Linked DNA regions of Homo sapiens. The protein of the gene in region 2 interacts with the protein of the main gene of each other region in a pairwise test. Each region holds a gene or a part of one and is shown on either strand. Other genes may lie near its edges.

What was found.
Region 1: the proteins of CPLANE2 (region 2) and MSLN interact in a two-hybrid assay, tested with the Homo sapiens proteins (one large-scale study listed by BioGRID and IntAct).

What each region holds. Positions count from the first base shown.
Region 1 is NC_000016.10:766,469-769,591, reverse strand, and holds the end of MSLN (mesothelin isoform 1 preproprotein), read right to left. Parts: coding exon 3,102-3,123; intron 2,949-3,101; coding exon of another isoform or gene 2,925-2,948; coding exon 2,782-2,924; intron 2,708-2,781; coding exon 2,580-2,707; intron 2,217-2,579; coding exon 2,122-2,216; intron 1,214-2,121; coding exon 1,027-1,213; intron 945-1,026; coding exon 859-944; 3' UTR 730-858; downstream 1-729. UniProt on the Homo sapiens protein: Membrane-anchored forms may play a role in cellular adhesion. Megakaryocyte-potentiating factor (MPF) potentiates megakaryocyte colony formation in vitro.
Region 2 is NC_000001.11:16,231,041-16,234,340, forward strand, and holds the end of CPLANE2 (ciliogenesis and planar polarity effector 2), read right to left. Parts: intron 2,725-3,300; coding exon 2,572-2,724; intron 1,978-2,571; coding exon 1,853-1,977; intron 1,607-1,852; coding exon 1,470-1,606; coding exon of another isoform or gene 1,459-1,469; intron 1,258-1,458; coding exon 1,008-1,257; 3' UTR 652-1,007; downstream 1-651. UniProt on the Homo sapiens protein: Required for efficient primary cilia initiation, regulating a late step in cilia initiation. Plays a role in the final maturation of the mother centriole and ciliary vesicle that allows extension of the ciliary axoneme.

The DNA.
Region 1 (3,123 bases), on a different chromosome or scaffold from region 2:
CCCTGCCTTGCAGCCTCCTGTGCCTGCTGCACTGGGGGACTTGCATCCTGGTTTCTGTGGACAGCGTTGCCTCAGGGTGGCTGGGTTCACAGGGGTCAGGTGCAGGAAAAACAGAGGTGTTAGATTCAGCTGGACGCCCACTTGGGCTGACGGGCCAGCTCTAGGCCAGGCCAACCTACCCAAGCCCCACCTCCTAGACCGTCCCACCCATCCCCGCCTCCAGGCCCTGGGAGCTGGACTGAGGACCAGGCCCTAAGAAGGTGCCTCCCGCACAACCACAGGCCCAGGCGGGCCACGGAAGACGCTGCCCGGGCCCTGCGGAGGGCTGGGGCTGGGGCTGGGGCTGGGGCTGGGGCCGGGGCCGGGGCCGGGGCCGGGGTTGGGGTTGGGGTTGGGGCTGGGGCCGGGGCCGGGGCCGGGGCCGGGGCCACAGACTTCACTGCTGGACATGAATAAAGTCCACGGTCGTGGTCCTGCCTGTGTCTGTGCTCAGGGCCTGAGCAGGGGGGCCCGGGAATGTCCTAGCCGGGGCCAAGCCTGTGGGGACAGGGGCACAGGACTCCCACCACCGGCTCCTGGGGCCACCCTGAGTGCTGGCCTGGCCCTCAGCACAGTGGCAGCAGGGTCAGGAAGACCTCCAAGGGCCCCCACCTGGCCTGGGGGCGCAAGACCAGAGGGAGAGGGGCCACGCTGGTGGGGTCACAGAAAGTCCTCGGAGGCCACAAGACGTGTCTGCAGGGGGCATGTTCCCGTTTACTGAGCGCGAGTTCTCTTGGGGTGGAACGGGGACCACCCGTGCCTGCTCCTGGCCAGGCGGGGATCCCCAGCAGGGCTGGGGCCAGCAAGGGAGTGGGGCCCTCAGGCCAGGGTGGAGGCTAGGAGCAGTGCCAGGACGGTGAGAACAGGTCCAGGTCCTAGGAGGCAGGGCGTCCCCGAGAGGGCCTCTACAGAGAGAGGGGTGACTCAGAGCGCCCACCTCCACGCCCCCAGCTCTGCCCCCAGCCCTGGCCTGGCCGCCCCGCCCACCTTGCATGCTGAGGTCTAGGACCAGGTAGCCGTTGGGGATGCCGCCCTGTAGCCCCAGCCCCAGCGTGTCCAGGTCGTCCTGCCGCTGCCGTAGGATCCAGTCCCGCACCGGGCGGTGCCGCTCCTCCGCCTTCAGGCCCTCCACGTGGGGTCCCAGAAGTTTCTGCACCTCAGCCACAGTCAACGGCTGCCAGAGACCCCGGGCAGCCATCAAGGAGGGTCTCCTTCCCTCAGCGCCGCCAGAGGGCTGCCAGGCTCTCCTGTGTCCAAACTGCCCCACCCACAGATGCCCACCGCAGCCTCTCCAGACTTCGGAGGTCTCCGGCCAGCTGACCTCAGCTCAATGGCTGCCCTTCCCTAGGCCCCACCACACGGGAAGATGCTGCCCTTCCTAAGGCCTCGCCCCACTGCAGACCCGCCTTACACGCCCTCCCACCCCCCGTTGGCCCCTCCTCCATGCGCCCCTCCACCAGGGCTTCTCCACTTGCCCCCCCCTCCATGTGCCCCTCCTCCACGCGCCCCCTCCACGCGCCCCCCTCCACACCCCCCCATGCGCCCCTCCTCCTCCACGCGCCCCCCTCCACGCCCCCCCACACGGCCCCCTCCACGCGCCCCTCCTCCACGCGACCCCTCCACGTGCCCCCTCCACGCGCCCCCCTCCACACCCCCCCATGCGCCCCTCCTCCTCCACGCGCCCCTCCTCCACGCACCCCCCTCCACGCCCCCCCATGCGCCCCCCCCACGCGCCCCCCTCCACGCGCCCCTCCTCCACGCCCCCCACGCTCCCCCCTCCACGCGCCCCTCCTCCACGCGCCCCCCTCCACACCCCCCCATGCGCCCCTCCTCCTCCACGCCCCCCCACACTCCCCCCTCCACGCGCCCCTCCTCCACGCCCCCCACGCTCCCCCCTCCACGCGCCCCTCCTCCACGCGCCCCTCCTCCACGCCCCCCACGCTCCCCCCTCCACGCGCCCCTCCTCCACGCGCCCCTCCTCCACGCACCCCCCCACACGCCCCCCCTCCACGCGCCCCTCCTCCCACTCGCCCCTCCTCCACGGGCCCCTCCTCCACACGCCCCTCCTCCCGCTCGCCATACCAGCACCGCATCCGTCCGCAGCTTCATGAACGTGGCCAAGTCCATGCTCACATTCTGCTGACTGAGCGCCTTCAAATCCTCCGTGGGGGCCCCACCTGCCCGCCGGGAGAGGGGCCCGAGCTGAGGCCTCACCTCACACCCCCAGGCCCTTGACCACAGGCTGCAGGAAGCCCACTTGCCTTACAGGGCTTCCCTTTTTCCTTAGGGATTCCAGGGCCTGGGTTTGCCTAGCCGCCTGACCCCCAGGCGTGGGAGACCCTGGAGGTGGCTGGCGCCCCGAGCTGGGGTCAGAACCCACAGCCCCTAAGGCCATACACACCCCGGGGGGCAGAGGGCGGGTGACCACCCAGTTACCCTGGCAGCAGACGGCCCGGCGAGGCAAAGGCCTGGCACCCCCGAGTGGAGTCTGTGCTTCCCCCGTTGTGTTGCCCACCCTGGCCAGGGACTCCCTGGCTCACCCAGGAAGGACTGGATCTTCACGAAGTATTCGGACCCGTTCATGTTCTGGAAAGCAAGGCGGGCCTTGGGATAGAGGACGTCCAGCTGCCTTGGGTCACACGTGTCCAGGTCCTGGGGCCTGACCGCCCTGGGGACACGGTGGGTGGACAGTGAGCGCCAGCACACGGACCCACCTTGCCGGGCAGAGTTCTGGGGACTCACCAGATGCTGCTGGGGGGCACGGAGCTCAGCTCCTCGGGGCTGAGGGAGCACAGGTACCCAGGGTAGAAGGCGGTCAGGGTGTCTAGGGTGTCTTTGTCTAGCTGGCCCCTTCCCTTCACAAAGCGGTCGATCAGGGTGGCCACCTGTGGGAGGGGCCGCCGAGGAGCCTTGTGGCAAGGAGAGATGTATCCCTCCACCACCAGCATAACCTCAGGCCGTGCCCCTGACCCCAGGCCCGCCCAACCTCAGGCTTTGTCCCCCACTCTGCCCCTCAGCCCTTCCCAATCTCATGCCACATGACCCCCGAGCCGGACGGTCACCTGAGGACTCATTTCGTGCCCT
Region 2 (3,300 bases):
CATTGCAGGCCGGGCGCAGTGGCTCGTGCCTGTAATCCCAGCATTTTCGGAGGCTGTGGCGAGCGGATTATTTGAGGTCAGGCGTTCGAGACCAGCCTGGCCAACATAGTGAGACCCCCATCTCTACTAACAATACAAAAATTAGCCAGGCATGGTGGTTGGCATCTGTAATCCCAGCTACTTGGGAGGCTGTGGCAGGAGAATCGCTTGAACCCAGGAGGTGTAGGTTGCAGTGAGCTGAGAGTGCACCACTGTACTCCAACCTGTGCCACAGAGCAAGACTCTGGAAAAAAAAAAAAAAAAAAAAAAAAGGGCCCTGCAGCGCGACGGGCTTAACTCCTGGACTCACAGGTGGACTCCATGTCCCAGCCTCCCCCACAGCGCCACATGACCACATGACTGCTGGGTGCTGGCCTCTGGAATGTGGGCAGAATGAGGTGCCACCCTGGGCCTGGTCCACAGAAAGCGGGGGGACACCTCCTGCCTGCACTCACTCCCTGGCTGCTGACTGGGTGCTGACACCCTAGGGCAACTGGGCAGGGTAGGGTCTCTGGGGCTGGGTCTCTGCAGGAGCGCCTGGAGCAGAGCCCCACGCCCACTGTCACCTCCTCCCGAGCTGAGGCCTACGTGAGAACGAACACGTCTCTGGAGTTCAGCACTGGGATTTCGGGGTTTATCTGTTACAACAGATGGTGTCACCTCAACCAATACAGGTTCTTGATTGAAGTAACTTGAGAGGCACCCCCTCTCCCAGTCATCCTCCATCGGTGCTGCCAAAGGGGGAAAGGCCACGGGAGATGTTCGAGCTCAGGGCCTTGGTCCCCACCTCCCTGCCATGAATTCTGCAAGGAAAGCGCTGCTCGCGGGTGGGCCTTCTCTGGCCACATCCTCCCTGATCAGGCCATGCTGGCCAGTCCTCCAGATAGGATCCATGTTCCTGCCCCAGCCTCCAGCCCTATGTCGAGACCTGAGGGTTGGGGGTGGGATCACAGGCAACCACTCGTGACTCATTCAGGAGCACTCTCTGGGGGGTTGGGAAGCAGGCCAGCCGCCACCTGGTCCTGGTGCCACAGCTGCTCAGCAAGGCCATTGAGTATGTGGGCAACGTCGGCCAGCCCAGCCCGCCCGTCCAGTGTGCGCCCATCAGCCAGCCGCCGCCCCGGCACACTCTTCACCCGTAGCAGGGGCAGCTCCCAGGCCTGCCGGAAGGCTGTGAGGTCCCGCTCGGGCACGTCCGTGTGCATGTACTGGTCAAATCTGGAGGAGGGTCAAGGAGCCTAACTGGGTGCCTCTGCACAGCCCCCCATCAGACCCTGCCTCTCCCTCCTCCCTGGAGCCCACACCCAGGAGCTGGGGTAGCCATGCTGTACCCTTTAAGTAAAAGCCCAGGTGCTGAATTCCATGCCTGGGCAGAGGCTGGGCCCCTGACCCCCTGGCTCCGTGACTTGCCAAGGATATCCAAAGGATACTTGGAGCCGATGACCATCCTGACGACACCAGGGGCCTCACCTGCTATGCGGGCCAGCTGTCCAGGGAGGTCTTCAAAGGAGGCACGGTCAGTGAAGGAGAAGAGGAAGAGGAAGGCATCTGTGTTCTCCATGCAAGCCTGGTGATGGAGAGGCATATAACCATGTCACCCCCCATCAGCTGCAGGGCCCTCAGAAGAATCAGGAATAATCCCTCCTTTCACAGATTGGGAAACTGAGGCCCAGAGCAAGGAGCGGCTGGTCCTAGGACAAGCATGGGCTGGGACTGTCTCCAGTGCCAGCTCAGGTCTCTGAGCAGTGCCTTGAGCTCATTAATACCCAATCGGCCCCTGGCAGAACCCACCCAGGCCCACATGCCTGCTCACCAGCAGCATATGATCGAACTTTTTGAGTGCAGACTCTCCACAGTCCCAGAACTCAAAACGAAACATGACGACACGGCTGCTGGCCTGCAGCTTGGCTGGCCAAAATACCACGGTGGTCTGGATGCCTGAGGGGGAGCCAGGGTCAGCCACTCACCATGGGAGAGGTGGAGATGGGAGGAATAGGGGACCAGGAAGGAATAGGAAGAAGAGATACATCCCTGCCCTGATGGGTCCCTAGTTTGATGAGGGAGGCACAGTCCTTGACCCGGGATAATTCTCAGTCTGATGGGAGAAACAGAAACTGGCCCTGGAGGAGACTCTGGTACACCAGGAAGATGCAGCCCTAGCTATGGCAAAGCAAGTTTCGTTTGTATGTCCAGGGAGACCCAAAGGGCCCAGGACGCTGGGAGATGTTTCAACATGGTGGAACAATCAGCATCCAGTGGTGAGAAACAACAAAGCAAGATTAGCATTTCCTGAGCATTTACCTTGAGCGTAGCTTGATGCTAGGCATGTTACCACCACCACCACCTCTAGTGGCAACCACACAACAACCCTGTGGTACTATTATCCCCTTGGGACCAAGGAGCCCATGTAGGCTCAGAGACGTGAAGTGACTTTCCAAGGCTACAGAGTAAGAGGTGGTCCAGGGCCAGGTTCTTGCCTCCACCCCCAAGGAGGGCCTCCCAGGATGGGCAAAGGATAGAGGTCCCACTCACCGGTGGTCTCGTGGTGCACCACAGGCACCTCCAGGCCAGCCAGCTTGGCCACCAGCGCCGTCTTGCCCACACCACTCTTCCCGGACACAAAGATCTTGTAGCTGGCAGTGTCAATGGACACAGGCGGCAGCAGCACTGGCCGCTCAAGCAGCCCTAGGGCAAAGAGAGAGCCAGGCAGGGTCAAGGGGTGCTGTGGTTTGAAGGTGTCCCCCAGAGTTCATGTGTTGGAAACTTAATCGCCAATGCACCAGTGTTAGGAAGTGGGGCCTAACACAAGGTGATCAGCTGCCCTCATAAATGGATTAATGTTGTTATTGAGGGAGTGGGTTTGTTATAAAAGCCAGTTTGGGCGCCTCTTGCTGTCTTGCTGTTGCCCTTCTGCCTTCTGCCACGGGATGACACAGCATGAAGGCCCTTTCCAGATGCTGCTGCCATGTTCTTAGACTTCCCAGCCTCCAGAACCATGAGCCAAATAAGCTTCTGTTCATTATAAATTACACAGAGGAGGCCTGGTGCGGTGGCTTACACCTGTAATCCCAGCACTTTGGGAGGCCAAGGCGGGCAGATCACCTGAGGTCAGGAGTTCGAGACCAGCCTGGCCAACATGGTGAAACTCCATCTCTACAAAAAAAAATACCAAAAATCAGCTGGGTGTGGTGGTGGGTGCCTATAATCCCAGCTTCTTGGGAGGCTGAGGCAGGAGAACTGCTTGAACCTGGGAGGTGGAAG